Homo sapiens: one gene and its partner. The protein of the gene in region 1 purifies or fractionates together with the protein of each later gene. This does not show direct contact. Each region holds a gene or a part of one and is shown in the gene's direction. Other genes may lie near its edges. The genes, in order: RHEB and SRPRB.

Region 1 (17,251 bases):
ATCAGCAGTCCCTTAATGAACATCCCGGACGTTGTTTTAGACATAGGGTAATAATGCACATAGGAAAACTTCCTGGATGTGGGCTATCATAGGGTTACAGTTCATGTTCTTGCCAGCAGTGAATGAGAGTGTCTATTTCCCTACACCCTCACCAGCACTATGTGTTAGCAAACGTTTTGGTACTTACCAATCTGATAGGTGAGAAAAAGCAGTGTACTTTTAAAAATGCAGTGTACTTTTAATAATGCACTTTTCTTCTTAGGAGGGGCTTTGATTTTTCCTATGTTAGAAGATGTTTGTATTTTTCCCCCTATGAATTATCCTGTCTGTGTACTTGGCCATTTTTTTTCTATTGGGTGGTTGGTCTTTGCGTGTTGATGTGAGATTCCCCTTGATATGTGAAGAAAATTAGCGTTTTGTATATGATCTGAGATGCACAGTTTTGTTTTCAGTTTGTCTTTTATTTATGGTTTTTATTTGAGGGGTTTGCAGCCATGAAGAACTTTTTCACATAGTTGAATTTATTTATTAATCTTTTTTTTTTTTTTTTTGAGACGGAGTCTCGCTCTATCGCCCAGGCTGGAGTGCTGTGGCGCGATCTCGGCTCACTGCAAGCTCCGCCACCCAGGTTCACACCATTCTCCTGCCTCAGCCTCCTGAGTAGCTGGGACTACAGGCGCCCGCCACCACGCCCAGCTAGTTTTTTTGTATTTTGAGTGGAGACGGGGTTTCACTGTGTTAGCCAGGATGATATGAATCTCCTGACCTTGTGATCTGCCCACCTTGGCCTCCCAAAGTGCTGGGATTACAGACGTGAGCCATTGTGCCCGGCCTTATTAATCTTTTTTTAACTGATAATGTATTTTAAGCTCTCCCATCTATCATACGCATCGTTTTCATCTTTAAATCTTTGCTTCCTCTGGAATATGTTTTTGCCAAAGTGTGAATTGGAGTTCCAGCTTAGCCATTCATCCTCAGGTGGCTCTGGGCTTGTCCCTACACTCAGTTGAGGGTTACTTTTGGTCCTCACTGATTGAAATGCCAATATTATCATGTACCTCATTCTCATATCTGTCAGGTCTTTCTGGATTTTTCAGTCTGTTCTGTTTGTGAGCCAGTACAGTATTACTTATGAGAGCTTTATGATTTCTACTCAGCTGCCCTCCCAATTGCTATTATATTGTTATATTGCTATTATTCTTTCTCAGAAAGTAGACTTTAAAGGCCGGGCACAGTAGCTCCTGCCACTGCACTCCAGGCTGGGTGACAGAATGAGACTGTCTCAAAAAAAAAAAATCAGACTGGGTGCAGTGGCTCACACGTGTAATCCCAGCACTTTGGGAGGCCAAGGCAAGCGGATCACCTGAGGTCAGGGGTTCGAGACCAGCCTGGCCAACGTGGTAAAATCCTGTCTCTACTGCAAATGCAAAAATGAACCAGGTGTGGTGGTGTAGCCTGTAGTCCCAGCTACTCAGGAGGCTGAGGCAGGAGAATCGCTTGAACCTGAGAGGTGGAGGTTGCAGTGAGCTGAGATAGTGCCATTGCATTCCAGCCTGGGCAACAAGAGGGAAACTACGTCTCAAAAAAAAAAATCAGAATTATATCAGCTGGGGGCTCTTTCCTCCATTATACCTTCTAACTGGTAGTTTTTTACTCAGTGCTTCTTAGACATAACTTCTTTTTTCTATGTTTCCACAGTTTCCCTTTAGGGAAAACAGAATTTTAACTTTGAACCTACTCTAGCTGAGCTAGTGATTAAAATCATTTGGGATTTTGTTTTTAATCTTATTTATTATATCAAAGAATTTATAATAAAACTTAATTTTTCTTTTCTTTTTTTTTTTTTCTTTAAAGAACTTTACCATAGGGCAGTAATTCTGGGCTGTCATAAACAGTGGTTATAACCATACTATAAGTTTACAAAAATAATAGACTGCTGCTTAATCTTCTGGTACCATGATGTGATTTTTCCATAATAGTGCTTAGGACATGTGTTATGTTGACAATTTAGTTTCAACTAAGAATGAAACGTTCGTACCAGACAGTGGCGCGTGCTGTTGAAAACTGCACTGACATCAGAACTTTCTGTATGCTTTAATACGTATATAAAGCAAAGTGTCATAACGCTGCTTTATAAAACTAAAGACTACTGTGCTGTTGCGTAATAGGTACCTTTCTCTTTAATTCCTAGAGTTGCTCAGTAAATAACTCTCTTGGTCCCCAAAAGTCTGAATACCTCAATTGAACCTGGTGTTTTGATCCTCTTTTCTCTTTCTCTGTTTCTCTCTCTCTCCCCCACCTCCCTCCCTCTCTCCCTCTCTCCTTCAGATGCTGATGGCACCCCTCTAGCAACCTGTAGACTGAAGCTCAGGTCATTGTGACTGACATGCAGAGAATAAATCAAATAATATGCCAGTTTCAAATATAAAAATACAGATTTATGGGATAAATCAGCAGGATTTATAAATGTCCTGAGGTCTAGAAGGTTCTGGAGTTAGTGATGCTCATCCCTTGTTTTGAGATCACAGAGCCAATGATTTTTGTGTTCCATCCATCCTCTTCTCCCAGAAATTATGAAGGTCATCAGACTTTCCCCTAAAGTTCTAGAACAGCTAGTCATTTTTAAATATTGGCTTGAACCACATTATCACCTCCAGGCCATTCTTAAAGCTTCACTTTGTAGGCTGTTTCTGGCATAATATTGTAATCCACTCTGCGTCTACTTTGATTTCTTCAGGTAATACATGAAAAACTTTGGGTAAAGTTTGTTTGTGATGCTATATGAAGACTACTCAAAGATAATTTTTTTTCCCCACAGGATGAATATTCTATCTTTCCTCAGACATACTCCATAGATATTAATGGCTATATTCTTGTGTATTCTGTTACATCAATCAAAAGGTAAGACTCCTGCTGCCTGCTTGAGTTGATTTGCTACTCATAGATAACATTGATCCTTTTAAGGGACTGTGCTGGAATTATTAATAGTGACAATTAGAATTATTAGGCTACATGTTTTTTAGTGATTTTCTCGTGGAGCAACTGGATTGCTGGGAAACATGGCCCACTAGATGTTCTGTTAGTTACACCAATAGGATAAAAGGCTCTTTCTTACCTCAAGCTACCTAGAAAAACAGTGGTTCAGCATGATCTAAGCTTTTCTGCTAATTGAAATGGGAAATGCCTAAATTAATTTTACTTTGTGTGTGTTTTTACCATATTAAGGTGAAATAGACTTTCTAATAAAATGTGGGGGTTTGGGTTTGTTCAATATCTTATCCTTTGAATTTATGAAATAAGACCTTTTGGTAATAGAGTCTGACTTTACTACATAAAAACAAAGCCACTATTTTTATTAATAAGAATGGATATCGGTTCCTCTAGCTACGTATTTCATGTCTCCTCTTATCGGGGGATGGCATGTATTATCAGGAGGAGCAGTGGTCTGTGTCTGTTAACAGAACAGCTGGCTGTATACAGCAGCGGAGCTCTGGGCATTGGTGACAGCTTATGTTTGAAGACTTTATGAAAATATCAGTGCCAGTGGAGGGCGTTTGGTGGCTACGTAGCATCTATTGAGTGTGTGCGACATGTTAGGGAGTTTGCTACTCTCTTTGCCTACATATGATACATTACTTATTTCATCATTACCTTAATCCTTCATCAGAGATGTTTTATATCCCACTTTACGTGGAAAGAAACTGAGTGACAGAGACCTAAAGCAGCTTGCCCAGGGCTACATAATGACATTGCTGGGATTCATAGCCATCTCTCCAGTTCCACAGTCAAGGCTGACACTGTCCAATAGAACTTACTGCGGTGATAGAAGTGTTTGCTCTCTGTGCTGCAGGTGGCTGTTTAACTAAAAATGGAAAATTAAGCCTCCCTCGGTTACAGTAGCCCCATTTCAGGTGCTCAGTAGCCACATGTGGCTGGAGGCTGCCATGTTGGCCAGTGTCTGGGTTCCTTACCCCCACATACTCCACTGCCAGTGAAAATTCAGTCTGCTGCTCTGTGAGTGTGTTGTTTAACATTTTTCTCCGTGGCAGAGAAACATACTTTAGGGTGTTGAGTTCTAGCTATAAAATGTTTGAGTACCATTCTCGGCCATTCTTATAAACAGACCCCATACTGTCAATCCCCGAGAAAGTTTACACCTGAATCAAAACCAAGTACCAGAATTATGTGTTCCTTAAGGAAAATTGAGGAACTGTGAAAAATAGAAAGTGAGGGTAATCATTCTTAATCTAATTACCTAAGCATAGATACTGTTAATATCTTGGTATATGTTTTTTCTGGTCTTTGTTTTAGTCTGCATGGATTGTTTTAACATCCTTTTATTTGCTCTCTGAATGCTGTTTTATGGTTTATATTTTCCATGTTTTTATATTTTTACTTACCATGTAATATATATTTTTCCATATTACCTAGTATTTGAAATAGTAAATGGCTTTATAATATTTCATGTTCAATGATAGATGGATATCTCTCTTCCTGTTTAATGTATTTATTTATATTGTCACTGAAAGCAATGCTTGGATTGGATTTTATGCTTAAAACCACTGTGTACTTAGTATTTGGAAACATGATCATTTTCTTACTGACTTATAAGAGCACTTTAAATAGTAAAACTATTGGCCATTTTTATACAAAGATTTTTTTAATTTCAGTTGTATATTTTTAAAATGTATATACTGCCACGTGTAAGGCCTTGTCCAGAACAAATTTAGTGTACCAATAATCTAATGAATGTTGGAAGTTCATGTTTGTTTATGAATTTCCATTATTTTACTAATTTACTTGAAAAACATGATTCAAAGATTGTTTTGTTGTTGGTAAGTACAATTTTATCCTAGCTGATTTTTAGAAAACAGTGTTGGTGTTACTTTACAAATTGTTACTTTGAGGCATTAAAGTAGTAGGTAGAAAATTTTCTTAGTGCATCCACTGATTTTTTTTAAGTCTCTTTTTTGGTGTGCACAAATTAGATGACATTATAGAATCAAGTTGAAAACATAGCATGTGCCACTGGGGAAATTGAAAAATACATTGAGCTGGATTAAAAATATGAAAGTGTGCTCACCAAGGACCTTATGTATTTGAGAAAACACTGGCCTAGTGCAAAGCAGAGGACAAAAAGCTTGGTACTGTGTCTTCTCAGTGGCACTGTTGCAAGTTTTGACCAAGTTTCTCCTTACTAAAATGGGTGTGTTTTCTTTTGTTATATGCCTTTTACCTCAGTAACTCATAGTTTAATGAGCATTCTCAAATCTCAAACATGAGTGTGAGAAGAGTGGTGTTTTGTTTTTTAGAAACCTATATGCTGAATACACAAATATTTATGAATATACAAGAAATATGTCAGTAAAACTTTCTGAATCAACCAGTTTGTTGATCAGAATTGTCTAATCCTTTTTATTGAATTTAACCTCTATCTAAATAATAACCATTTTCATTGTTTGTGAAATAAAACAGAAGTCTCACATTATTCCTTTATATCATAAAACCCCTGTAGAATTGCTCTTTCTGAGTAAATAAAGCGAAAATACATCCTATTTCATAATTTCTAGAAATGGAAAAAAGAAACCTGCAGTTGAGAGATGTGAGATTTGGGTTTTCATTTATCCCCACTAACAACTTTGGACAAGTTACTTCACCGTACCTTTGTCGCCTGTAAATTGGGTATATTGATATAGGAGTAGATCTCTCCTATCTGAGGCAGCCGGGTTACTTACTTTAAAACATTAGTTAAGGGCCAGGCGCAGTGGCCCACACCTGTAATCCCAATACTTTGGGAGGCCGAAGTGGGCAGATCATTTGAGGTCAGGAGTTCGAGACCAGCCTGGCCAACATGGTGAAACCTCATCTCTACTAAAAATACAAAAATTACCCGGGTGTGGTGGCGGGTGCCTGTAATCCCAGCTGCTCGGGAGGCTGAGGCAGGAGAATCTCTTGAACCTGGGAGGCGGAGACTGTATCATGAGCTGAAATCATGCCATTGCACTTCAGCCTGAGCGACAAAGCAAGGCTGTGTCTCAAAAAAAAAACAAAAAAACAACACTGGTTAAAGGGAAAAAAAATCGGAAAGGTGATGTCAATCTCCAGTGTTTTGTTTTAAAGCATAAATATACATTCAGTCACTCATCTTGTGAAATTTTCAAATTGTCATCTTTGAATATGAGTTCACCCACTGCTGTTCAGTATGACTACATCCACGATTTGTCCATTATGACTTCTGGTTCGGTTTCTTCCGAGTGAGATGCTTGGGAAACAGTCTACACCTCAACTATTTAGATTGCTGTGATTTTCCCCACCAGTCTTTTTCAGTTGGTTTGGCACACCTTATTAAGGAGCACCGTTTTTAGTAGATCAACTCACAGTATTCAACTTCTAGTTTTCAGACAAACAAAACTCTGTCTACACATACTTCAAAAGTTTGCAACATAAATTATGACTATGATGAATTTAACTGGCATAAGTGGGTTTGGGAACAAATGGGGCTGTTTTAAATAATGCCTTTTTTTTCTAGTAGCTCGTAGTTTAATCAGCATTCTCAAATTTGAGACATGAGGGAGTATGAGAAGAGTGGTGTTTTGTTTTTTAGAAATCTGTATGCTGAATACACAAATATTTATGAATATCCAAGAAATACGTCAGTAAAACTTTCCGAATCAACCAGTTTGATTCAGAAAATCAGTGATCTCAAGAAATTTAGCCACTTAGAACAGTACACATTTATGATCTCACAGTTTTTGTGGGTCAGGAATCTGGGTGTGGCCTAGCTGTGTCCTCTGCTTCAGTCTCTCAGAGCCACAGTGTGGGTATCAGCAGGGGCTGCAGTCCCATCTGAAGGCTTGCCTGGGGGAAGATGTTTCCCAGCGTGTTCACGTGGCTCTTGACAGGGTTGAGTTTCTTGCAAGTTGTTGGACTGAGCTTCTTAGTTCCTTGCTGGCCGCTGGCCTGAGGCTGCCCTCTGCTCCTTGCCAGGTGCTTCACTTCATTGGGGCAGGTGCACAAGAGAGCCAGGGAATTTCCTGCATGACAAGCCACTGTCTTTTATAACCTAACCGCAAAAGGGACATTCCATCACCTTTGCCATATTCTGTTCATTAGACGCACGTCACTAGGTCCATGCAGGGAGATGACACACAGTGTGGCCACTAGGAGAGCAGGAGATCTGGGAGCCGGCTCCAAGCTGCCTGCCACACAGTCCTAGTTCTTTCAGCTGTTTCTCACGTGACAGGGTACTGTATTTTTGCCCAAGTGGCGACACTTTTAAAGATAGGCAAATACAGCATGCGGAGGAAACCGTGGTTCTGTAATGCAACCGCAGGTCCTTAGGACACCCATATCCCATTTGTTGACCCACAGCGAGCTTGTAGGGGGGTTAAATTTCATTTTTGTTTTTATCAAATGACAGCACACATCGTTTAAAATAGCACAGTGTGTAATTCATTCAACAAGCTAACTTATTCTGAAGCTTGTGATGCAATCATGAACAAAGCAGACAAATCCCTGCCCTTGCGGACCTATTATTTCTGGTGTGGGAGACAAACAGTAAAACGACACACATGCGAGATAGGATGTCTGTGACCATGCTGCCAAGAAAAATAAAGTACGGAAGGGGTAAGAAATGGAAAGGAAATTTGTCATTTAGGGTAAACAGAAGAGGTGTAAGAAGTGACATTTGAGGCTGGGTGTGGTGGCTCACGCCTGTAATCCCAGCACTTTGGGAGGCCGAGGCAGGCGGATCACGAGGTCAGAAGTTTGCGGCTTGAGAGTCACTGGGGCCGAGTAAAGATGGCCACCCATCAGAGGATGTTGAACCAGGCACCGTCCATCTGCTGCAGCAGAGTCCTCTGGTTGCTGTGCTGAGCAGGGGTGGCGGGGAAGGGTTGGGGCTGTGGAACTGATGCAGGCAGACTTGGGCCAGGAATTCACACCTCAGCGGCAGCAGTGGAGGGGAGTGAGAAGCCGTCAGATTCTAGGTAGGATTTGAAAGTAGAGCCAGTGATGTGCTGGCAGATGTTTGCATGGGTTTTTTGGGGGAGGGTGGAAAATGATTTGTGGCCATTTGCCAGCAGTCAGTGGTATAAATAATCCTGCTGTGGCAGATTTCAAGTGATCATTATGACATCTCAGATCCCCTTCCCGGTGAGAGCCACCTCCATCCTAGAGTCATCGGCTCATTGATCTGATTGAAAGCCAAGAGATACTGGCATCACCCAGAGAATGTATGTACCTAGGAAAGAACACAGGAGCAGGCTGAATGTACTAGGGCACTCTAGGAAAAGCTGTTCAAGTTGTAATGTAAACAGTTGGTTCTTTGCTGAATGAGTTGGGTGATTAAAATTTGCATTTATGTGGTTTCTCAGCCCAGTGGTAGGCTTTCCGTTTGAATGCCTTACCTGTTTCACTTTGAATATCCTCAGTCAGGGTTGCTGAGTGTCAGATGTATGCACATGTGAATGGATTGCTAGGAAAAAACAGGAGTTCTTTGTGTTCATTTTATGTTATGTTAAAATGGTGAGTCTGTGACATTTTACATTTTTCCAGCTGGCAACATAACATACATTTAAAAACTTCAACATTAAAATGGATGTCTAATTTATACTTTTTGTTTTATAGTTTTGAAGTGATTAAAGTTATCCATGGCAAATTGTTGGATATGGTGGGGAAAGTACAGTAAGTAGTACCATTTTATCTGCTTGTTAGAGAAACTTCTTTTAATAGTATCTTCTGAGCAATACAATCTGGCACTTACTGGTTTGTCTTTTTTTTCTTACAAATAGAATACCTATTATGTTGGTTGGGAATAAGAAAGACCTGCATATGGAAAGGTATGTAGCTTTTATAAAGTCAAATCTAAGATGATTTAGTCACTGAAGTATCATTTTAATTATTGTTCTGATGTCAAGAATATTTTTAGCTGTAGCATTTTTATCCGTTCAGAGGTGTTATGGTCGTGTGCAGCAGAAGCAAAAGTGGAATAGAAATCTCACATTCCTCTAGAAAAGAGAGAGCAAACTTTATAGGAAACTACCTTTAGGTTATCTGCCACTTTGCATAAAGCAAATTCTAAAAAGACATAGTGCTCATTTATGCAGCAAGTGGTTTTTGAGTACCAGGGTTTGGGATTACAGTGAGGAGCAAAGGAGGCAGATGTCCCCTGCCCAGGCAGCTTCATGTCAGAGAGGAAGAGACTCTACAGCCTGCATGCAAGAGAATTGAGCTTTCAGGCTCTTTCACAATTTCCCCTGGCCTTGGGTGCTTACAACCTAGCTGTAAAATAGTCAATTGTTACAGATACGGGAGTACTGGAAAATAAGATCATGTTCTCTGAGCTGGAAGGTTTGCTGGAGCATGGATAATCCCATAAAGCAATGTCTATTCTGTTCCCCAGCTCAGGCGTAATTAAAACACTCCTGTGTTACATTCTTGATGCTAATGTTAGGCCAGGGCATGGTTCTGCTTCATGAGAAAGAAATTGACCAAAATGGAGCCTGTTTCATAAATCAATTATACATGTTTTATATAATGAAGAGCAAAGTACTTTAACTAGAATTTTATTTTTTCTTTAGGGTGATCAGTTATGAAGAAGGGAAAGCTTTGGCAGAATCTTGGAATGCAGCTTTTTTGGAATCTTCTGCTAAAGAAAATCAGGTAACAGATTCTATAAACCTCATTTTGCATTGCGTTCTCATCAGTCGCAGGGATGTGTTCCTTGCAGTTGGCATTTGACCTCTGTCTTGATCACTCCTGTGTAACATCTGGCCTTCCTCCATTTCTAATACCAAGTTTTGTGTTGCTTTAGGAAGATACTACTTAGGTGTTTATAAATTCAGTCAGTATTCTACTTACAGTGGAACCTAGGATATTTGTAGGATAAACAGAAACTATTAGTAAAGGAAATACTACCTTTTGTAAACATATATTTTTGGTTTGTATTAATAGCTGGTACAGAAATAAGTCCATACAGGGGAAAAAAAAAGAATTATATCACTTTAGTACTAATTTTGTAACTACCCACCCCCTGGCTTTTTTTCTGTTAGATGAAACCGGGTCAGACGTACGTGTTAATTGTTAACATAGAAATGATGAAGAACCATCTTATAAGCATTTAGTACCAATTTCACCCCGCAGATGTGCCTTCAAAGGCATGTTCTGGGAAGGATGTAGATTCTGCCTCCGGAGGCTTCACAGTCCTGTATGAGCCCTTCTCTTCCATTGCTCTAATTTAGACCCCCGGCACCAAGCTTGTCTCCCGCCCCCAGTGCATTTTTCACCTATACATTTTTTTTGCTGCCCTTAATTTTCTAAAGATACACATCTGATGGTATCATCCTCTACTCAGAAACTGTCAGTGAACTGCCCCTTCTCTATAGAACCCTTCGCCTGGTCCTGAATGCAGTCAATAATTTGTTCTTTTCTAGTTTCTTCTCTCACCACGTTCTTGTACTTTCCATCACATCAAACTGCTCCCTTCCTTAAACACACCATCTCCTGTCCACCCCACTTTCAAAATGTCTCACCTTTCCTCATGCTCCCCTCCGGTTTAAAATAGCCCTTCTCTAAGTATCTACTTAGGTTCATGTGGGGTTTTATATTTTGAATGTGTTTTCAACATGTGGTGGTGTTTGATCCTCAGGTAAGATGACTTGGTTTTCATTTCTCTGAGGAAACTCTAGTATAGTAGGGTGGTGCCTCCTCCCTGGGAGGGCCGGGCGCCAGCAGCCTTGGCACTCTTCCTTCCCTGCCCCGCCCCTCTCCGCAGCACGGAGGTTTGTAGTCCTCAAGGCCCCACCTAGATTTCACCTTCTTGTTGACCCCCTCTGGATCCATCCAGCTGAAAGAAATTGTGGTTTCTTCTCTTAGCCCTCTTAATTTGTTCTGAGATCTGAGTCAGTATCATTTATATAAATATCCTTCATAATGTTTAGCACAGTGGGTTATCCGTCAGCCCAAGTATCCTGTGATAGTCAAATTGGCTTTGTCCTGTGTTGGGATATGGAGGGATAGTGAATCCATGTGGTTATGTCCTCTTATGTGCGGATGAAAAAAACTGATTAAACAGATGTGTGTAATTCGTTCCCAAGTTCCAGATAGCAAGGGATTTATCGAAGTCAGCTCAGTTTCTGAGTATACACAGAATTCAAATAAGAATTGAGATAGTTAAGAGATACCTATATTTTAAAAATTGAATTAAATCCATTGAGTGCCTATGGACTGTATCCTTCAGATCATGTAGTTAAACCGCCTCATTTTAGAAGTGAGGAAATTAAGTTTCAGAGAAGTTAAATGACTTTTCTAAGATCACCCACTACCTTACGTGGTATAAGAACTAGGACTGAATTGTAGATCTCATCCACATCTAGTCCTTTTTTCTCTACACACTGCTTCCTGTCAATCAGGTGATCTGAAGCCGGTGACCTAGATTAGACAAGCGGGGTGGGACCTGGGGTTGGCTTCAGTTAACTAGGAGGACAGACGCCTCATTCATACCAACAGGACAGAAGGCTGAGGATGGGAGCCCACATTCAAGTGGGTGGGTCAGCTTGGTGGATGGAGGATGTGGAGTTCTTTCATGAATGTGGCTTCTGTTTTCCAGTGAAGTGTGTAAAACAAGGTTTTCAGCTGAGCGTAAGCACGGGGAACATTTGAGGAGAAGGGACAAGGCGTGGATGCTTTCTCTGGGGAGTGCCCAGATCCAGGGATGCAGGCGGGTGGCTAGGCAGCACCAAGTGTCTGCGCCAGGTTCCTGGTCATGGGTGTGAGGTCAGCAGTGAGCGGTGTGTGTTTTCCCTGGGCAGCGTTTACGGTGTGGCCGCGGGCACCGTGCCAGCGACAGTTGGTAGGGAAGGGAGTTGAAGTACAGTGGCGCCATGGTGGCCTGCTGAGTCTGAGCTGACCGAGAGGGAAAGGAGCAGCAAGAAGTGGTTAAGGGACAGGGGAGATGTAATAATAGGGTCAACAAATCAGGCCCCTTGTGGGGCTGAGAATTGTTGCTTCAGGATAGCTAGAGAAAGAGCTGGGAAGGTGGTGTGGTGGGACGCTGGCAGTTGGTGTGTTCTGGTTTCGTGGGATAGTGGAAGTCACTGGAGTGATGGGGGAGGGGGATTCTTGGTGATTAGGAGAACAGGGTACTTCCTGTGGGGCTTCTGAGAACAGGGGCAGTTTTTCATGACCACAGGACTGCATTTCAAGGACAGGGTCTGGGAGTCACGGTGGCTCAGGCCTGTTGTCCTGGTGCATAAGGAGGCGAGGCTAGGCTTTCGAGGCCAGCCTGGGCAACATAGAAACCTCCAATCTGTATAACAAAAAAGGAAAAATAAAGGACAGGGTCTGACAGTTCTCCTCCCCACTCAGTGTAGGAAGAGTTCCTGCTCCAAGTGGCCATGATTCCTGTCTGTGGTGAAGGACTGGTGGGGTTGACCCTGGGCTGAGGCTGAGGGCAGGAAGACGGGCAGGAGAGGAGAGGCCAGGAGATAGGGAGGGCAGTTTGTGGATTGAAATGACCGAGAATTACGCCACAGAGGTGTTGGAGGCTGGCATCGTGGCATCTCAGGAGCACGGAGGGTGCCTTCCCCACTTCAGGCCTCTTAGTGTCAAGGATGTGAGAGGCAAGGGCTGCTGGGAGAGTATGTCCCGTAGGAAAGGAGGAAAGATAGTGCCAGAAGTGAAGAGGGACCCTGAGGTCAGAGGACACTGGGGTGGGGGTCATGGGGTGGAGTGGGACAGGAGATGGTGGTGAGTCTGGGAGTGAGGACTCTTCGGGCGTCTCCTGGTGCCTGAAGGAAACAGGGTCAAAAGCACAATCGGAGGCTGGTTATGGTCTGGGTCAGGAGGGGTGGACAGTGGCCTTACTGGGCGTCGGGGGGCCCTGAAGTTCTGGGGCTCACCAGAACCCCTCCTCCTCCACCAGTAGGAGGGCAGGGCAGGCGGCACGCCCTCCTCAGTCCGTAAAATACTCTCGGAGTTCGGCTTCACACTAACACTGTGATTGGGTTTCTTTCTCTTTTCAGACTGCTGTGGATGTTTTTCGAAGGATAATTTTGGAGGCAGAAAAAATGGACGGGGCAGCTTCACAAGGCAAGTCTTCATGCTCGGTGATGTGATTCTGCTGCAAAGCCTGAGGACACTGGGAATATATTCTACCTGAAGAAGCAAACTGCCCGTTCTCCTTGAAGATAAACTATGCTTCTTTTTTCTTCTGTTAACCTGAAAGATATCATTTGGGTCAGAGCTCCCCTCCCTTCAGATTATGTTAACTCTGAGTCTGTCCAAATGAGTTCACTTCCATTTTCAAATTTTAAGCAATCATATTTTCAATTTATATATTGTATTTCTTAATATTATGACCAAGAATTTTATCGGCATTAATTTTTCAGTGTAGTTTGTTGTTTAAAATAATGTAATCATCAAAATGATGCATATTGTTACACTACTATTAACTAGGCTTCAGTATATCAGTGTTTATTTCATTGTGTTAAATGTATACTTGTAAATAAAATAGCTGCAAACCTCAGTCCTTTGTGCTACTTGATGTGGCTTTCAAAGAAGAGAAGCCTTGTCCTGAGTTTCTCACTTGGCTTCAGGAAGGCCCCAGGTTGGATTCCAGAAACCAGTGAAGATGTGGCCACAGGAGGAGGTGTGCTGAGGTGGCTGCTGACCGTGGACTCCCTGCGCAGTGGCCTGCAGATGTTGGGGCTGGGTTACAGCTGATTGAAGCTGAGTGGCCCTGGGGGGTCTGTGAGGGGAGTTCCTCCCCAGTGATGAAATTCTCTCCTTCCACCCTCAAATCCCTAGACCTTGACTGAAATGCTCCGTGGTCGGGAGCCTGGTCAAGGAGGAGGAGCTGCTGAGAGGCATTGTTCGCCCTTGCTCATAGCTTAGCTCGATGTCCGTGTCAGACAGGAGATGATTGAGAACAGCCTTGCCTGTCACTGTCCTAGAACACCCTGGAGTTTAGTGTTCTGTGTCAGAGTCTTGGGAGCCTCCTTCAGACCCAGATGACGGGCCTCCCTCTGTCCAAGGAGCAGCTGTAAAGGAGAAGAGGGATTTCATTTGTTTGGTGGCTGTTACCTTGTCTGTAAGTCAAACTTGGAGTTGAGCAGTGCTTTTTAAACGATTCCCTTTTGCAGCTAAAATTTCACAGGGCTATTTCTAATACGTAAGCAAATGTTACCATTGACTTTATTAATAAAATATAGTTTTGCTTTGCAGTTGATTGTTAATGAAAAATTATGTTCTTAAAACACATGCCATTAATTTGGATCTTTTAAATATTTTTGCCTCATTTGTCATTCCAGGATGAAATTTCTGCTTTAGAAGACTTCCACCAAATACATTTTTAAAGACAGGGTCTCACTCTGTCACCCAGACTAGAGTGCAGATCATAGCTCACTGCAGCCTCAAACTCTTGGGCTCATGCTCAAGTGATCTTCCTGAGTAGCTAGGATTACAGGCCTAAGCCACTATGCCTGGCCAAATAATCACCTTTTAAATTTTGACAACACAGTATTGTTACTTATTACCAGGGTTATTCTTAGGACTAAAAATGTAAGAGCACTGAACAGAAAATGGGGACCTAGTCCATCCAGTTATGTCTATGTAAATGGAACTTAGAACAGCATATTGTACTAGAAACTCAAGTTCAACTGAACTCTCCTGAGGTGGTCCTTTAAGGACTGGACCTCCTGAGTGGAGGGAGCATAGTATCATTTCTTTATGTGACGCAGTGCACACATTCCTTCAGATATGCCCTGGGGACCTGCCATGTGCCAGACACTTCTCTGAGTGCCATGAACACAGCAGAGAAACCTGCACCCCTGTGTGCCGTCAATCCTGCGCTGAACCTTGGAGATGCCACACAGGGTAGGCCCCCGTCCAGCTGCCCAAGGCAGCAATCCCAAGAAGACAGTTGACTCGTTTACTTGATTGAGCATTCGTGGTTTTGTTTTTTTGTTTTGGTTTGGTTTTTCTGACACAGAGTTTCGCTCTTGTTGCCCAGGCTGGAGCACAATGGCACAATCTCAGCTCGCTGCAACCTCTGCCTCCCAGGTTCAAGCAATTCTGTCTCAGCCTCCCAAGTAGCTGGGATCACAGGCGCATGCCACCACACCCGACTTATTTTTGTATTTTTAGTAGAGACGGGGTTTCATAATATTGGTCAGGCTGGTCTTGAACTGACCTCAGGTGGTCCGCCCACCTCGGCCTCCTAGAGTGCTAGGATTACAGGCCTGAGCCACTGCGCCTGGCAGAGCATTAGTCTTATAATCAGTGATAAAACATTGTCACTGGGCATGATGCATGTGCCTGTAGTCCTGGCTACTCAGGAGGCTGAGGTGGGAGATTGCTGGAGCCCAGGCGTTCTGGGCTGTAGTATGCCGTGCTAATCCTGTGTGTACACTGAGTTCGGCATCAATACGGTGACCTGGGAGCTAGGGACCGCCAGGTTGCCTGCGGAAGGGTGAAGCCATCCAACCTGGAAACAGCGCTCAGAACTCCTGAGCTGATTAGTAGTGGGAGTGTGCCTGTAAGTAGCCACTGCCCTCCAGCTAGCAACATAGCCAGACCTGTCTCTTAAAAAAAAAAAAAAAAATTGTGTTGAAAAGGTAATGCTTTTCTTTGTGGTACGTAAGTGTAGTCTTAGATTTATTGAAATACAGGAAGTGCAACTATAAAACTATATCCAAAATATTTTGCAGTTCAAAATTAAATTTTAAAATACAAATTATAAAATCACATTACAAATTAAAATTAGTGTGATAGAATTTTGTTAAAACTAAATTGTCCATCCACTCTGGACATCTCTCCCCACTGGTTCACCAGCCATGCTCTTGCCTGAATGGCTTCTCACCTGCTTGTCACCAAATCTAGTAGTTTCCGGTTGCTTTCTTGACCTCTCGGTAGCATTCCACACAGTTCACCGCCGTCTCCCCTGCGTCATCATTACCCCACCATCTCCTGGTCAGCCTGCCAGCTCTGCTGGTGCATTGGTCTCCTTGGCTGTTCTGTATCAAACCTCTCAGCAGACCTTTTTTCCTGCCTACACCCTCTGCCTTGATACTCTTCAAGCATAGCTGTAACTCTGTGTAACCAGAAGAGTCCAAAATGTCTATCTCCCACCTTGACCTCTTTGGGCTCCAGGCTGATCTTGACAGACTCTCTACTTGGGTGTTTTATAGGCATCTCAAGTTTACTATGTCCAAAACTGAATTCTTGATTTTCCTTGGAAACCTGGTCCTCTCTTGGACTTCCTGTTTCAGGAAATGACACCATTATTCACTGGGTCCGTATGAAAATTAGCAATTTGGGAGCTGTTCTTTATCCCTACCCTCATACTTCCCATCCGATCCATCAACAAATCCTAAGGGCCTTGCCTTCAAAAATCTACCTTGTGTTTTGTCCATTTTTGTCTCCACTGCATCCTGGTCTGCAATGGGACACCCTCTGAGCCCCTACACCTCAGCCAAAGCCAGCTTGTAAAAACAGTATCATGTTGCTCCTTTGCTTAAAATCCCTCCGTGATGATTGTGCCAAATCCGTGTGTCCCAGCCTCAAGGCTCAGAGTGACCTTGCTGCTGCTTAGCTCAACCCTGTCTAGTTAGTGGCCTTGATCAGTTTCCAGAGCCAGAAAGCTCTCTTAGCCATGGGGGCTTCTGGGGCTCTTTCCTTTGCCTGGGACACCCCTTCCCGAGACTTCTAACCCTTCAGATCTCAACATTGTCTCTTCCCAGGGGCTTCTAGGATGGCCTGAAGCACCCCTCTCTGTGAATCTATCCAAGCACTCATGTTTTATCATATGGTACAGCATGTGTCATAACTGATCATCACTTTTGTTCCTTGTATTGTGTATGTTGTGTATTACTCGACTAGATTTGGCTGGAGTGGAGACAGTGTCTCAGACATCTTTGATTCCAAGCTCCTCCTAGCACAGAGCCTATAAAATAGATACTTTCTACTGTGCCATTTTAATTTCCTTGTAGTTTGTGTGTGTGTGTGTGTGTGTGTGTGTGTGTGTGTATTTTAAGTTATTAGCAGTTGCCCTGGGAATTACAGTTAACATCTTACTTTATTATAACACTCTAGTTAAGATTCATACCAACTTAATTTCAATAGCATACAAAAGCTTGGCTCCAGTTCCTCTCTCATTTGTGCTGCTATTGTCATGCAAATGACATTTCTATATATTATATGCCCATCAGCACAGGCTTACAATTGGCTTATGAAGTTGCCTTTTAAATCAAAT
Region 2 (9,342 bases), on another chromosome or scaffold:
TTGAGGATGAGATACAATTGCTGTAAAGAACTATAAATTGAAGGATTTTTAATCTTAAAATTTATTTCTACTCCTACCTTTTCACCAGTCTTCTAACCAGAAGACCAAGGAATGATAACCAAGTGACTGCTAACTGATTTTTCTTTGATACAGTGTTTTTTCTGATTATAAATTATTTTACTTTACCAAGTTAAGTTCATCAGATTGACAATATGTGATATCAGATGCACAGTTTTGCAGGGTGGAGTTTCTGCTTTCAAACAAGTTTACTGTACAGCACATTTTATCAAGGGAAGTTTGCTGAAGTTGTTTTCTTTTAACCTGATAACCATTGAAAACTTTTCTAGTAATCCCCAATAAAACTGGGCTTCAGTTCCGTTACCTGTACAATAAGACAGACTAGTGGATCTCTTCAGGTCTCTTCCAGATCTGAAATTCTGATTCTATGAAGAGTTCAAGGCATTTCTCAGAAGTGACCAGATAATATTGATAATGCCTTATTGGGAATGCAATTAGCGTCATTACCTGACCTCTTTATTTCCCTGATTGAATATAAGGAAGGGAGTTATTGTTTATTTGCCATGGGCTTTGTGCCAAACCAGAGCTTGTTTCTTACCTTTAGTACACTTAATGCTTTAAACATACCGTCTTAGGATCAATTGGAAACATGCTAAGTTTACTTTAAAATGACAGATAGGGCACTGTCTTTTGGCATGTGAAGGCACTTCTCATAATCACAGCACTGGTAGGTTTTCTTTCTGTTAAACTGAGTAAACTTATATGTTTTGAATTGAAAGGTCTATAAGGTGTGGAGAACTTTAGGGAAAGCTAAAGTCAGTTTTAGGGTCACCAGCATAATATGTTTATAAGCATTATCTTGGGAAAGCCCCTAGTGCAAGTATAAAGCTTACTTTGATAGAGAAGGAACTAGTGATAAAAGGTCTTTTTTTAAAAAAAGAGAAAAACTTACTGGTTTAAATAGGAATTTTCCTTCTGTGTAAGAAGTCTTGGGGAAAAAACTCATTCTCGTTTAAACTACAACAGTGTCTTTATTTCTTTACAGATATTGCAATGGCAAAATCAGCAAAGTTAATTCAACAGCAGCTGGAGAAAGAACTGTAAGTGTGAAAGAGGCCTGTTGGTTAATTATATATCTTAACACTTAGACTGTAAGCAGCATATTCATGTTTCTTTTGTTTGGTTTTATGTGATTATCACAATTATAGACTGAAGATTAGTGTGATAAATATTTGTTAAATAATTTACAAAATAATGGAATCACAAAAACTTACTAGGGTGCTTATAGATATTTTAAAATTTCATGGAAAGAAGATTTTTTTGAAACCATAAACTTAATTTATTTTACCATTGTTACTAAATCATTTATAGTTGAAAGGTTTTAGAAGCTAAAAAAGTTTACATGCCAACTTGAGAACGGTGTTATTTCAGTGAGTGGAAGTGTTTGTTCACCACTCAATAATGCCTGTGAAGTGGTATTTAAGGATGCATGTAAATAATAAAAAATAAAAACTGAGAATCAGGAAAAAAGAAATTAAAACATTTAAAAGCCACTTTGGAAATTATTGTTGACAGAATAAGAACAGAACACTGAGGAAGACTACAAGTCTTTGATACTACATTATAGCTTCTTAGATTGTTAAAATACTTGGCAATATTATATATCCTGCTTTGAGTGTTTCAAGGTTTGTAAATTGAGCTATAAGCTTTTGAATTTTAAGGCATCTAGCATGTCTTCTGCGTTATGCCAATTTGTAAGAGCTAGCCAAAAGCTGGTGTAGAAGAAATGATCAACATTTATAGTAAAGCAAGTTATGTTTTCTTATTGCTTTTGTGTAAGGCCTTGAAAAGGATCTGATGAGGAAAAACTGTATAAATTCAACTTTTAGAAACTTTTCTCCCCACTATGACTTACTGACTCCCTTATTCATTTAAGAAGCACCTGTAGTGCATCTAGTGGATGCCAAGACTGCAGTTGGGAGCAGCTGTAGGAGGAAATGTGTTCCTGTACTCAGGAGCTTAGAGTCTGGTAGAATCTAGTCAGCTTCGGGCATTGGCAAACTCCTGCCTGGGCCTGCAAGCCAAGAGTAAATCGACATTTTTAAAGGGCAGGTAAAAAACAGAAGAAAAATATGCGACAAAATATTTAATTTCTGGCTCTTTGCAGAACAATTTTGCCAGCCCTGCCTATGCCATTTTCAGTGGTTCCTTTCCCGTCTGGAGCTGCGAGTTTATCACCCTGTCCTCCTGTGCTCTTGATGCTCACTCTCTTGGATTGTATCTGTTGCTGCCATTAGGTTAATAAGGACATTGGAACAATTGGATGGTTGGGTTTTTCTAAAAATTCTCTTGAAATTGTTGGGAATTGTTTTGGGGAAGCCAAAACTGTCATAATGTTATTTGTGAATCAGTCTTGGGTTATTTTTAACAGTACAGTCCAAGTCTCCCGTGGTTAAAACACATGTTTTCCATAGGCTGTTTGCTTTTCACTCTATAGACTTAGAGAAAAACAATACAGAAGCCAATCCTTTTTTAAAAGCATTGAAAGGCAATGCTTTCTTAAAAGGCAGTGAAACAAAATGTTGACAAATTGTAAAGGTTAACATCAGTTAAAATTCGGAATCTGACTAATTTTAATCTCAGATTTATGAGAATTAGGCCCTGTTAGCTTAGAGGCATTTCATAGTCTCTCAATAACACGGTATATTATATTTACATGGCCTTGTGGCAAAAGCTGAATACATGTTTTACTTTTTTCCTTAAAAAATTTTTATTGTAAAATATCTTACTTATAATAGTATATATGTCACATGCATTAAGCTTAAAAAATATTAAAATGAATACCTATGTACTCACCACCATGCCTAGAAGGCCCCTGTTTCTCCCCAAAAGCTTTTCCCTCAAGAGGTCAGCAATATCCAGTTTTGTATTGTTTTTTAAAAATACTTTTACAGTGTGTGTGTGTGTGTGTGTGTGTGTGTGTGTGTGTGTTCCTTCCTAAACAAGGTATTGCTTAGTTTTGCCTGTGGATTCTTCACTAATTTTGAAGCAACTTTACAGAACAAGAAATGCTTTATTTTGTAAGAAAGAAGATTGGCAGCATGTATTCCTCTGCTTCTGGATAGCAGAAAGGGGAAGGGGAGGCCGACAAATGAGTGTTGCTTATGCACCCTTTATTAGGGCCAGCAGGTGGCAGTAAGGGGACTTACATTGGGAAGGTTTTGGTGGTTAAAGAGGTTGGATAATAGTAATTCTGCCCTAGTTAGATATGAGAATCTGGAGTTGGTGGATTTCTAAACTCCATATCCAAATAGACTCAAGATAAAAATACATACCCTATCTACCCACACTTAACTTTCAGAAACTTATGTTTTTATAACACTTAAAGCATGTATTTTAAAAATATATTTTTAGACGGCTTCATTCAGTAGATCCTCTTAGAAGGGGGCCTTGGGCTGAAAGAAAGTTGGTGTGACCTGGTCTACTGCTGACCTGCCTTCTAGCCCTGTGAGGTCTGACCCCCCCAGCCCGCCCCACCTACCTCACCTCTCTGTCCAAGAGAGGGACTTATAAATGCAAAGGATTATTCAACAATCTTAATAGCATAATTGGCAATTCTATAGTTAAGTTTTAAATGAGTGCTGAAATGTTTAGAAACTAATATGATTTAATTGCTGTATAAAAATTTTGCCTCCTGACTTCTTTCCTTTTGCCCCACAGCAACACCTTACGAGTTACCCGTTCTGCTGCCCCCAGCACACTGGACAGTTCCAGCACTGCCCCTGCTCAGCTGGGGAAGAAAGGCAAAGAGTTTGAATTCTCACAGTTGCCCCTCAAAGTGGAGTTCCTGGAGTGCAGTGCCAAGGGTGGAAGAGGGGACGTGGGCTCTGCTGACATCCAGGACTTGGAGAAATGGCTGGCTAAAATTGCCTGAGAGGCAGCTCTAAAGCACAAGACCTGGATGTGTGACACACAGTTTTGGAAAAAGGTCTGTGGTAGTCTGGAGTTGATGAGGAAGGGGTACAAGATGTGGTTAGAAACATTTCTTTGTTCTGGAAACAAAGTACTGTTGAAACCAGCTTGGAATTTTTTTTTTTTTTTTTTTTAAGTTCAGTTCTCCCTTATGGCTGCCTTTCAAACAAGTACCTTTTATCTGATGCCTGTATCTTCCCTTTGTTAAGGTGTAACTTGATGTAGGGTCAAGGTTTTTGTGACAACAGGCAGACTCCACACAGAGAGGATATGATGAGAATATGGCCATCACCTGAAAAGTTTTCTTATCTTCTGTGCTTTTGGTCCCTGGAAACAAATCCGCCTATGTATGAAGCTAGTTGATTTCCAGTTGCACTATTTCCAGTTGCCTCTGAAGTTCACAGGCAATACATTGTCTAGTCCTTTGCGAATTTCTCTGATTTGTGGGCACAGTTATGAAGTTTCCCCACATGTGAAGACAGGTACAAAATAGCAGAGCCAAGCAGACAGTGGGTCTATTCTTCATTAGCTCAGTGACTTGTCCACACTCGTCTTAGCACTTACGTTTCAAAAGCTTGTCACAAACCCTTGGAGTCATTCCCAGATAATAGAACTGGAAATGATAAATCCCCTAATGCCAAGGGTCTAGTGTGTTCTTAGTGGTTATACTGGGAAGTGTGTGGAGATTTAGGTGCTGCTCTGCTGCTCTGGATGGCTGAAGGCTCCTGGGCCATCTTCATGTGCTGCTTGAAGAGCTCCTATTTTGTACTCCTGGCTAGAATGCTGTGGAACAAATACAAAGTGAAAAAAGTTCTCTGTAGATTTCTGAAGTGCATATTCATTGATGCCAAGAAAAAAAAAAAGTTGCCTTTTTGAAGTGATGTTTTTTGCTGTCTTCTTAAACACAAGGCTTTTTTGAATGATTAGTATATTTCATGGTAAAGAAAACAGCCTGTCTGGCTCAAAGCAATTAAATAGAATGTAATGGTGAGTACAAATGAGTGCACATGTCAGGACTCAGGTCTAACTCCTTGTCTCCTGAGCCTAAAGATTGCAACATACACAAGAACACACTCCTATTCCTACCCCACACACTCAGGGACAAGCCCAACTAAAGCTTACAAGGAGACCAGGGTGGCTCTGTCCAGGGGAGAAGCCAGTTATGGAACAGTGCATTGAGAGCCATGGTAGGAGAGGCCCACAGTTCTCTGGAGCATGCAGCAGGGGCACCCCACCTGGCCTTGAGGATCAGGGGGAGTCAAAGGATAAAGCATGGGGCTGATGACGTCTGAGGGAGTGTGATCCTCCATGTATGGCCTCTGCCTGCTGTCTCACATGTCCCTTCTGGTGGTCACTTGGGCTCTAGGAGTATACGTCACCTCAGACCATCTGGCAGAAATACTCCAGGCTCCTACCCCAAAGCACATGTCAGCCTTGCTGCTGGAGCACGAAGACAATGTAAATGAAACATGAAATGGAGGAGTTGTGAGACCCTGACCCTGAGTCCTTACTTGAAAGCTGCTGCTGGTGTTCTGAGTGTCTTTTGGACTCTTATTTCTTGCCCTTTTCCTTATTAGGCAAGCAGTAACTTAGGAAGTAGGTAAGAGCAATAAATGTGACATGTTATGTCATCATAGTAGGAGCTCATGGGAATAAAAGTCAGTGGCTTGATGCTTCTGTTAGAGGCATGTGTCCCTCTCAGCCTCTTTTATTTTTTTCTGGTTAATATCTTACTTTATTGGAGGAAGCAGCACACCAGAAAAAGTGACTGAAGAAGGGCTGCAAGTTTGAGTTTGATTCAAGGCCTAAAGAAGGTCTTCCAAAAAAGGATAATTCTATCTGGAACACTGGTCTCAAATGTTAGTGGGCATCAGAATTACCTGCGATGCTTGTTAAACTGATTTGAGGACCCTACTCTCAGACAATTTGATTCAATAGCAAGTCTGGTATTGCCTCAGGAATCTGCATGCTTAATAAGTCTTTTGTCAGTCGCATGGCACCCCTAGAGATGATCTGGCCTGGAGTGTCACGTGTGCCTTTACTTTGTTTTTAAAGTCTCTTGGGGCACACACCCTGCTGAGTTTTTCTGACAGGGTCAAGTCAGCAGGCATGGGAACTCTGACCTTGCTTCTTACTCCTGTACTAGTAGCAGGCATTCCGTTCTTGTGGCTTTGGGCCAGGATGAGGTCATGGTGACTAGTCTTTGGGAACTGGGAAGGGTTTTGATGGGAGGTCAAATGTGCTCTCTCCACTCAGGTGGTGCCCTTTTGTGGCCCTGAGGGCATTTGACTAAAGTAGGCCCATTTCATGAGATGGGCAGGTGTGGCCAGAGTAGAAGGATGGATGTCAGGTCTTGGAGACGGGCCAACTAGGCACGACTGTATGACATAGATGAGACTTTTGAGCTTGAAACACCTTGGGAACATGGCAGTGTATGGACACCGAGACCTCCTAGGACAGCAGCTGCCTAATGCAAATGACCCTGTTCCCTGCTAAGGCTGCAGTGAGATGCCCTCATGGAGGGGCAGCTGTGATGAGTGAGCCCCAGGCACTCTGTTGGTGAATATGTCCACTTCTGGAATGGAATCTCCCTAGTGGGTATGGACACGGGCAGACCCAGAGGGGTCTAAGCACTGCACTGTTTCTTCCTTTGGCTCCTCTCCAGTCCGGGCCTTGGTAGCCTCTCCACTACCAGGTGCCTGACAGTCTACTGGGGGTTCCTAATCAACAGCAGCTGCTGTTGGTGGGGAGTCCCTGGGGTCTGTCACTTCTTCCCACTGCCTCTGTCTCAGTGCCTCCTGGGCTGTCAGTGTTCCCCTGTGGTCCTGCCTTGTATGAAGCGCTGGCCATGCTCTGTTGACTTAGATCATTTCAGCCAGTCTATGTTTTTTCTTGTTTTTGAAGTTTTGGGTTCAGCACAATTGTCAAAGCTTCAGTTGGCTCATGCCTGTCCTCACCTGAAGGCCATCAGTGGCAATTAAGATGCCTATCTCTTTATCTCATCCCTTCACACATTTAAGGAAAGGTGATCACCCACCTACCTTCATTTAAATGCGCAGGAAAACAATCCCACTTCCCTTCAACTGTAAACCTCGAGAAACTTGACTGCTCACAAGAGCCTTGTACGCATTTATCCATTGGGTAAAGGCCACGCCTTGCAGCAGACCATGGAAATACTAAACAAAACGCAATTCCTGCTTTAGAGGCTAGTAGCCCCATTCTGAGGTTAAGAAACGTGCCCTTTCAGTGTGGTTTCCCTGCTCTCTCAGTAGTGTGAGCTCCATCACTGCTGCACTTGACTCCTAAGCGCTGTGTGGGCTTGTGGTCAGCTGCCAGCCATGCAGCCCCAACGGGACTGCCACTTTTCCACTGGCCTCTGAAGTGCCAGTGTTCCCATGATGCTGATGTGTGAGGCACATGGCCATGTTCTGTTGACTTGAATATATTGTTTCAAGGGTTTTTTTGTTTTGTCGAGACAGAGTCTCACTCTGTCGCCCAGGCTGGAGTGGCAGTGGTGCCGTCTCGGCTCACTGCAACCTCTGCCTCCCGGGTTCAAGTGATTCTTCTGCCTTAGCCTCCCCAAGTAGCTGGGATTACAGGCCTGTGGGACCACTCCTGGCTAATTTTTAGTAGAGATGAGGTTTCACCATGTTGGCCAGTCTGTTCTCAAACTCCTGGCCTCAATGTCTCTTCTAATCAAAGATGGCTTCCTTGAGGTGGCAGCAGATTGGAGGGTGTTCTGGAACCTTTATAAGCTTTAAAAGGAAAGGTAATTAGTGAAGTTGGACTTGAAGAAGAGTGAGATTCCCGGGCAAGGGCAATTTACCTAATCTTGGCCTTTGTTCCTCTTTGGATTGGTCCCAGGACTGTGCTGGCTTTCTGAGCATCTTTTAGTCTGGAGATAACTGAGACCTGGAGGGGCCACTCAGGGATGTTCCTAACTGGTGTGGTGTGGGGCTGGGGATGGAATATGGCAGCTAGATGTTGTCAAAGGTCATTATAGTTCACCTTAAGTTCTTGCCTTTAAATGGCTTTCTGAAAATCACCAGAAGCATGAGAGATCCAGTCCCTGTACCCTCTCCCCCCTTCCTAATCCCCTAGCCATGGCAAGCAGAGTGGGGATGAAGGAATATATCGTACCCCTGACTCAGTTCTGCCTGGAGGCTCCCTTCCCATCAGCCTTTCAGCAGAATGGAGATTAGGGGAATGCGTGTGGATTTACTCTCATGAGTGTGTCCCATCTTTACCCCTTCGGAGTTGGTGGACAGCCCAACTCCACCAGTAGGAGGAAGAAGCAAAGCAGCAAAGGGCTTTAGGTAGTGGACATACCACCCAGGCATGACAAAAGGGACTCTGTGGAGCACACACTTCAGGAACTGTTTTTGAACCCCCCCATTTATGACTGCACCACTTAAACACAGACAAGAAGCTTTGTTTTGAGAATTAGGACAGTTTATTGTTTGACCAACATGCTGAGTCTTTTCCACATTTTACACAGTTTAATGTGAAATCAACATGGCGGCTATGTCTTCTGAGCCCATAACAGATGGAATTGCCACCCTCTGTGCTCCTCACAGCCAATCACTTTAAAGGGATGGGTGAGGGGAAAGTGAGGGGAGAAGTGGACACACACCGCGAGATGCAGGCTGGCCTTCAATGCTATGGAGGCTTCCCACCTCCTGAAGGAACCATCTAAACCCCTGCTGCAAGGATTTCCTGATGAAACCACACACTGCTGGGAGTGCCAACCAGACAGGGGTCTGGAGTCCAAGGAGTTTGCACATTGAGATCCCAAGGTTTTGGAACACCTAAATAGTTCATGTCAAACAAAAATTCAAAGGGTGTCCTGATCTGTGTGGGTGCCCATGACAATCAATCAGAGTAGACTTGGGGACTGGCCCTTGTGCAGTAGAGGAGCCCAAAATACCACCAATATTCTCACTCATATGCTGGGAAGAACCTAGTGTCCTAACCAAAAAGAGTAGAGATGGTCTGAGGAACACACCCACACACAGCAGTCCTTGCTGTGTAATAAATATGGAGTCACATTTGTTCACACACAGGGCAGCAATGGATGAAAAATGGAAACTTCACTGGTTCTGATCACTCCTAACTTGCTGGGTGATCTTAATAAGCAAGTTGCCCTTCTCCATCCTGGTTTTCCTGCCTGTAGACAGGAAAAGTTGTGACAGCTCTGCTTCACATAGCTGTAACAAGGTGACAATGCCTCACATTCTTTGGGGAGAGGCAGTTCGGAAACGAGTGTGCGCACAATCTGCTCGGTTGATGCACACAGACATCCTTCTGTTCAGCTGCCCCTCAAGTGGCTCAGACATGCCTCACTGTCCTCGG

Evidence for each region.
Region 2: the proteins of RHEB (region 1) and SRPRB purify together in Homo sapiens (affinity purification with mass spectrometry; 2 studies listed by BioGRID and IntAct, with this or other methods). This does not show direct contact.

The regions. Positions count from the first base shown.
Region 1 is NC_000007.14:151,462,983-151,480,233, reverse strand, and holds the end of RHEB (GTP-binding protein Rheb), read left to right. Parts: intron 1-2,818; coding exon 2,819-2,901; intron 2,902-8,628; coding exon 8,629-8,685; intron 8,686-8,792; coding exon 8,793-8,840; intron 8,841-9,581; coding exon 9,582-9,663; intron 9,664-13,022; coding exon 13,023-13,115; 3' UTR 13,116-14,222; downstream 14,223-17,251. UniProt on the Homo sapiens protein: Small GTPase that acts as an allosteric activator of the canonical mTORC1 complex, an evolutionarily conserved central nutrient sensor that stimulates anabolic reactions and macromolecule biosynthesis to promote cellular biomass generation and growth.
Region 2 is NC_000003.12:133,815,815-133,825,156, forward strand, and holds the end of SRPRB (signal recognition particle receptor subunit beta), read left to right. Parts: intron 1-1,063; coding exon 1,064-1,118; intron 1,119-3,738; coding exon 3,739-3,952; 3' UTR 3,953-5,678; downstream 5,679-9,342. UniProt on the Homo sapiens protein: Component of the signal recognition particle (SRP) complex receptor (SR). Ensures, in conjunction with the SRP complex, the correct targeting of the nascent secretory proteins to the endoplasmic reticulum membrane system.